Linked DNA regions of Homo sapiens. The protein of the gene in region 1 purifies or fractionates together with the protein of each later gene. This does not show direct contact. Each region holds a gene or a part of one and is shown in the gene's direction. Other genes may lie near its edges.

Region 1 (3,820 bases):
GAGCTGGGGAGAGCTTTGGAATGAGAATAGACATAGCCTAGAATACCACCCTGGGCAGCATGGAGCAGGAGGGACATGCAGAGGTAGGGGCTGTGAAGGGCCGGGCTGGTTAGAGAGGGTTCAGGAGAGCAGAAGCATTAGCTCAGCAACAGTCTGCAGGGCCGTGCCTTAGGGAGGTCAGACAGGAGCCTGTCAAGTGATTTGAGCAATTCAGAGGGCATCTCTGACTTCTTTTGGAGTCATTTTAATGGAACGGTAGGATATGGAGGAGTGAGGGGGAGGCAAGGAGATGAAGGCAGTGGCCGGGGACTGCTTTCCACGGCACTTTGGTTGGGGAGGGCAGAGCTGGCAGAATTGGAATGAGGTGAAGACCTTGTGGGCGAAGGCAGGAGGGAGGAGGAGCGGAGTGCCTTTGAAGGTGGAGGACTTGCTGCCCCAGCAACCAGCACCAGCAGAGGCCTCCAGATAAACGTCAGCTCCTCCAAGCCTGCCTCACTGCAGGGCATGACTCATCAAGGAGGCTCTTATCTGTGGACAGGATCCTGTGTGTGATGCAAACTCCCTTTGTGAGTGCAGCTCTCCAGACCTGCACTCTGGTGCCAGCCCACACAAGGTCATTGGCAATTTGTTTAAAAAAAAAATAGCTGAATGCTTCCTACACACTTTTGTGTCTCTTCCTGGGTTCTGCCTACTCTCTCCCTGTGGGATCTTTGTTTGGTTACCCTGAGCAATCTCCACCCTCTGGTGGGTTCAAGAGACATATGTTTTGTGGTTTATCTGGTTTTCCTTGTCGTTTTTCACATTCTTTTTAGTGTTCTATATTCTCAGTGCACATGGAACTCATAGCTTGTTTTTTCACTTTGTTGACTTTTGATGAATCAAATTTTAAGTGTGGGCTTGAATTCATATGTATTATAAACTGCTCCGTGTGTTGCTTGGCACGTGGTAGCATGAGAATATCACTAGGATAAGGGTGATAGTTACAATCGGAGTGTGGGTAAGAGCTGGGGAGAGCTTTGGAAAGCCGAGTGTGTGCGTGGCACCAGCTGGGCAGTCCTGATGGTGCCCCGCCAAGGTGGCTGAGGAGCCACATTTGAGATTTCATCTCTTCCCATCTCTCGGGTCCTTCCCAAAACACTAGCCCGTTGGAACCGCTAAGGCACAAGTCCTGTCTCACCTGGAGCCCTTCCCCTGCAGCCACCATCACCACTATATTTAACATCTAACAGAAGCGACCATGTGCACGTGTCTCTTAGCGACAATAACCTTGCTGGTCTGATGTGGAGACACTGTTTTGTGTGGCTTTGTATTCCTTTTAAAAGTAAACTCTCATCCAGGGAAAAAGAAGGCCCCCTGCATTTTAAAAATCACAGTCATTTCTCCTAACTGTCTTTTCAGGCTTTCAGAGTATGGATGCATGCTGGAGATTAAGGACGTGAGAACGTTTCCTGATGGAAGTTCTGTTGTAGACGCGATTGGCATCAGTCGGTTCCGAGTGCTAAGCCACCGCCACAGAGATGGCTATAACACAGCGGACATTGAATATCTTGAAGATGAAAAGGTAAGGCTTATCATACTGGTGTATTTTATAGCAGTCGGTCCTCTCGCTTCCCTTTGCATTGTGGAAAAGCTTTGTCAAACTTGTACTGACAATATTACTTAAGTCCTTAATTCATCACTTAAGTTATTTATTTATCTATTTGTTTATTTTTGAGTCAAGGTCTTGTTCTGTCGTGCAGGCTAGAGTGCAGCAGCATGATCTTGGCCCACTGCAGCCTTGACCTCCCAGGCTCAAACGATCCTCCTGCTTTAGCCTCCCGAGTAGCTGGGACTGTAGGTGCACACCACCACACATGGCTAATTTAAATTTTGTTTGTCGTTGAAACAGAGTCTCCCTGTGTTTCCCAGGCTGGTCTCAAACTCCTGGGCTCAAGCAGTCCTCCCACCTCAACCAAAGTGTAGTAGCCCCAAAGTGCTGTGACTACAGGCATGAGCCCCTGCCTTCAGCAGTTATTTATTTTCTCAGTGGATTTTTACCTGAGTTGGGAGCTGGTACAGAAATCTCCTTTTAAAAAAATGATCTGGCCAGGCATGGTGGCTCACGCCTGTAATCCCAGCACTTTGGGAGGCCAAGGTGGGCAGGTCACGAGGTCAGGAGATTGAGACCATCCTGGCTAATACGGTGAAACCCTGGCTCTATTAAAAATATAAAAAAATTAACCATGTGTGGTGGCGGGCACCTGTAGTCCCAGCTACTTGGGAGGCTGAGGCAGGAGAATTGCTTGAACCTGGGAGCTGAAGGTTGCAGTGAGCTGAGATCGTGCCACTGCACTCCAGCCTGGGCGACAGAGCAAGACTCCATCTCAAAAAAAAAAAAAAAAAAAAAAAGACCTTATTGTACTTATGCAACATGTAAACCTGCGCATTGCAAAATAGGCTTTTGATTTGTATTTGATGCTGTAGCCCTGGAGCTGGCAAACTTTTTCTGTAAAGGGCCGGCTAATAAGTACTTTAGACTCCAGAGGCCATGTGGTCTCTGTCGAAGCTACCCAGTTCTGCCCTTGTAGTGCAAAAGCAGCCATAGACAATGTGTAAAGGCATGAGCATGACTGGTTTCCGTTAAATGTGACTTCCGGAAACATGGTGGTGAGCACGGTTTGACTCATGAACAGCAGTCTGTCAGTCCCTGTTCTCTAGGTTGGTATTAATTCAGAATGTGACAAAATCTACAACTTAAAAAATACCTCCCAAAGCTAAATATAAAAGACTTGAATTTATTAACCCTTAAGAATTTTTTCATGTGTCTAATAGAAATATCAGGACATATAATTTGACAAATTAGCAAAATGTTTTGAGAGATTCTCCAACAGACTTACACAAGGATGTCCATAACAGTCTTACTCCATTATAGCCCCAAACCAGGAACAGCCCAGGTGCTGATCACACTTGAGTCAGTAAACACATTGTGGTCCATTCATGCAATGGAATACTACCTGTCAATAAAAAGAAATGAACCACTCGTGCATGAAACAATATGGATGACTCTCACAGACATTATGCTAAGTGAGAGAAGCCAGACACAGGACGAACACATACCGCGTGGCTTCATCTGTATACTTCCAGGAACAGGCAAAACTAGAGTCTGGGGACAGAAGTCAGAAAAGGCTTGTGGGGTTGGCTTTGTAATTGACTGGAGGGAGTGGTGAAGAATCTTTCTAAGTAGTGGAAATGTCTATCTGGTTTTGGGTGATGGTCAGACTGGTGTATACAGTTGAGAAAACTCTTTGAGCTCAACAAGATCTATGCACTTTTTGGTCTGTAAATTATACTGCAGCAAGAAATTTTAAAATACTTAAAAGGAGGAAATCCTTGGAATTATTGTATCCCTCTTTTAAATTCTTTGGTTGACATTTGGAATTGTGGAAGTGAGGGTACGTAGCCACCCCACATCACACTGGAAGTCATTTTGGGGGCAGTGGTGTACACTTAGGATTTGTGAATGGAGTCACACCCAGGACACTGTCTCTGTGCCTCCTCCAGCTGCTGTTTCTGGTCATCCCAGTGCATGGGAGCAGAGCAGGGAGCCCAGCTCCCAGGCTGGACCAGAAAGCTGGGTTTCAAAGCTACAGCTGAAAGTGATAATTCTCAGGGTCTCTCTGTGGGATGGATAGACCTGACGGCAGGGTTTATTGACCGTTGTTGTAGATGACAGCTTTTAATAGTGTATGCGCTTATTTTAAATGGGGGCTTAAATAGCTACAACATGAAATAATTTTAGCTTATTTTTATAAGAAAATCCTCTATCACATATGAATATTTG
Region 2 (3,820 bases), on another chromosome or scaffold:
TGGGATTACAGGTGTGAGCCACTGTGCCTGGCAAAAGAAATCTTTTTATCACAGTGAATTTCTGTTTTGATGCATGTGTGGGTCAGCCATACCCTCTTCAGTGGTCAGTAGCATTTGACTGGCTATTGGGGCAGTTGGGTTCTGTTACTCTGGTCAAGTCAACGTATCTCCCACTCTTTGTTCCCATATATAAAATGGGAAGATCAGCCATGCCTTCATCTGTCTTGTAGAAATGTTTTGAGGCAAAGTCAGAATATTTGAAATTGTTTTGAGCATTTTAGGAAAAATGGATAATAATTCAAAGTGGCCATACTTGTAATTATTATAATCAAGGCCATTGCATTGCATGCTTCCAAGGGGTCCCGTTCTCATTGTGTTGGATGTGAATGGTGCCCCTGGAGGAAGGCACCCCATGATATGGATGCTGGCTTTTCTATCCCCTGCTGACTGCCACGACTCTCCAAAACTAAATTTCTTTCCAACCACCCAGCACCTTGCATTAGAGGACTCTCTTACTTGACTTCATAGGATTTTCAAGTTGGAAATATTTTAATGATCTCCTTGGTCAGTCCCTTCCTGGCAGATGATTCCAACCTCTGCTTGAATACCTCTGGTGTTAAGAATCTTAAAGTAGGCTGGCATCATGGCTTTGTAGTGAATAACTGCCCTTTGGCAAATTACTTACTTTCTGAGTCTTTGTGTTCCTTTCTGTAAAAACATGGATAAGACTTGCCAGGTTGTGAGGAGTAGAAACAATGTGTCTGAAGTGCCTAACCTAGTGCCTGGCACTGTCAGGCATAACAACAAATGGCAACTATTATCATTGTGGTCATCATCATTATTATACCTAGTGTCTTCTGAGATTGCTCATTCCCTTGCCAGCACATTATAAATGAATTTAAGTTTTGCAAGTTCTCTTATTGGAAACTTTGACTAAGTGGGTTATTATTATTTTTTAAAATTAACCTTAATGTTAAGGGCAGAATTGTGTATTGAACACCCTCACACACAAATTGACGAGATTTTATTTGGGTTAAAATAAATATGTTCTACCTGTCTGAGAAATTGTAGCATCAAGGGAAATTAGTTTGCAACTTTAGTACAGTTGCCCTTCAAGGGACAATGTGTCCAGCTTCTAACTTCAGTCTTAGTGAAATATTTACTAGCATGAGCTTGTCCATCAGCACTAAGGCTTAAGATGAATGCAGTTTTATTACTGGAGAATACTTGGCTTACCTTTGACTGTCCTAGGCATTTGCTCGCCCTTCTGGGGGCAAAAATTTATCTTTCCATTTTACAGACCAGAAAATTGAGGTCTGTTAATGAGCAAGTTTGTAACTGAAGCCTGAGTAGAACCCAGGCATCCTGATTCCCACTGGTTGTGTCCTTTGGATTATGCTCACTATAAACAGAGCCTCCCCCTCTCTCCTGCAATGATTGGGCATCTCAGACAACTGCCAGGGATCAATAAGCTGGTAACTAAAAAATTCTCCTGAGATGAAAAAAGTGCAGAAATCATGATCCCACACCATCTGAAGCCTCTCTTAAGAAGATAAGTTAGGGAGAACCCAAAGAAGAGGGACTTGTGCTAATTGCCTGGCTTCCAGGCCATTGCCTTTTCTACCAGCTCCCATTTTACACTGGTGAATTGTTTACGAAAATGAAAGATAGCTTTTACTCAGTAAAGTCTGAATAGTTGTGGCTTAACTTGCTCAGAGGCCTCCTTATTGATATTTGGTGGACAATACCAGAGTGGAAAGGATTACCAGCTTGGGATGAGTGAAAGTACGATCAGGTGCTACTGATGTCAACCCAGAGTGCTGACACTGGCTCCATGTGCTAGGGAAGAGGAAAGGTTTAGCGTGGAAGATAGGTGTTTTGTAATCATTTTTCTCCCAAATGCTTGAGGGATGGCACCTTCCCCTAGCAGCTACGTTGGTCATTGCAAAAGTGGTTTTCACTTGATTGTCAAGGGGCTGTGGGCAAGGGGTGGGTAGATGATGGATGCAACATCAGATAAGAGGGTGGAGAGCAGACATACCTGGTTTGAAAAAGCCCCTCCAAATAATTCTGATACTTCCTCACCCCCATCCCTCTAGGAATCGCTGCCAAAAAGGAAGTAGGGGAAAATCTGAGGGAAGAAAATTATCTATGGAGACAGGAGAGGATCCAGTTAGTTGTTCCTCATTATCATCTCGGGGTCTTGAGGAATACAGAGGCATGTGCTTCATACATAGGAACATCAGAGCAAGGAATTCCTTAAATGTTTGAAATCAAGCTGTAAGCAGAAGGCAAACAAGTTAACTGATATTCCTGGCCCATTGAAATTCGCATCTGCCCAGAGTTCATACTGTTTCTGTTTTATCTGGTTGAAATACATTTTTGCACATGGAGGCAGTCCAGTCATTCAGCAAACATTTATTGAATATTTATAATGTGCTGGGCACCATGTTAGAAGCTTAGGCCATAAAGATGAATATATAGAGCTCTACTCTCAAGTTGGAGTAGGAGAGACCTCAGATAGGTGGGCTTCTCTTGGAAGTAGAGGGGAGGGTTCAGCCACACCTTCTTGATGGGAAGGGTTCTAACCATTGCCCTCACTTGGCTCAGGTGCCGGATGTGCTCACTGACATTCTACTCCAAGTCGGAGATGCAGATCCACTCCAAGTCACACACCGAGACCAAGCCCCACAAGTGCCCACATTGCTCCAAGACCTTCGCCAACAGCTCCTACCTGGCCCAGCACATCCGTATACACTCAGGGGCTAAGCCCTACAGTTGTAACTTCTGTGAGAAATCCTTCCGCCAGCTCTCCCACCTTCAGCAGCACACCCGGTAAGGCTGCTCTTGGTTTACCCCACCACCTGGCCGTGAACCCTAAGACCATGTTGCCTGCACCTACTCCTCTCTCCACATGTATTATTCTTTCCCTTTCACCTTTGCCCATTGGTAGCCTCAACCTCCTATTACTGTCTGTGGAAATTATATATCCTAGCTATTTGGGGGGCCTTGAAAATTGTGGTCTCCAATTCCAAAGTCTGGAACAATTTTTGTGGTTTCTCTCTGTGTCTGTGTTTGGAAATCTTCTGCAGAGCAGGCCTGCTTTTACTATATGCTTCAGTTCAGAGCCAAGGTGTGCATTCAACTTCAGGTCCATGGGGAACAGGCGGTATTGGTCTTTGTTCAGATTACTATTTGGAAGCAGGGTGTCTGTGGTGAGTGTGTTAACCTTAGGAGAAAGCGGAGGGTTGATGAGATTGACTACTTTAAGGTTACCAGGAGCCATGGGTTGCAGCTCTTCATCATCTCACTGCCATTCTAGCCACCGACTTACGATCAGCAACAACCTAGATCTGGGTGTCCTCTTCATTTGCCTATCCAGGCTGGAGTGTTTTTGGGAGGAGGGAGGAAGGGGGTGCTCTCATCCGTCAAGCAACGTCATTTCACCCAGCAGAGAGCTGAGCCCCTGGTGTCGAACTGCTTCCTCCTCCCCCCTTCCCTCCTCTCCTCTCCGGCAGGATCCACTCCAAGATGCACACGGAGACCATCAAGCCCCACAAGTGCCCGCACTGCTCCAAGACCTTCGCCAACACCTCCTACCTGGCCCAGCACCTCCGTATCCACTCGGGGGCCAAGCCCTACAACTGTTCCTACTGCCAGAAGGCCTTCCGCCAGCTCTCCCACCTCCAGCAGCACACACGGTAAGGGAGAGTGGCGGGCTACTGACCCCGCCCCGCTGGCATGCCCTCCCCACCCCCGCCCCGGACACACACAACAACCCGCATGCGGGGGGCGGGGGAGAGACCTGGCTGGAGGAGAG

Evidence for each region.
Region 2: the proteins of LONRF2 (region 1) and ZNF384 fractionate together in Homo sapiens (co-fractionation; one large-scale study listed by BioGRID). This does not show direct contact.

The regions. Positions count from the first base shown.
Region 1 is NC_000002.12:100,287,999-100,291,818, reverse strand, and holds part of LONRF2 (LON peptidase N-terminal domain and RING finger protein 2), read left to right. Parts: intron 1-1,398; coding exon 1,399-1,561; intron 1,562-3,820.
Region 2 is NC_000012.12:6,672,231-6,676,050, reverse strand, and holds part of ZNF384 (zinc finger protein 384), read left to right. Parts: intron 1-2,610; coding exon 2,611-2,835; intron 2,836-3,518; coding exon 3,519-3,701; intron 3,702-3,820. UniProt on the Homo sapiens protein: Transcription factor that binds the consensus DNA sequence [GC]AAAAA. Seems to bind and regulate the promoters of MMP1, MMP3, MMP7 and COL1A1.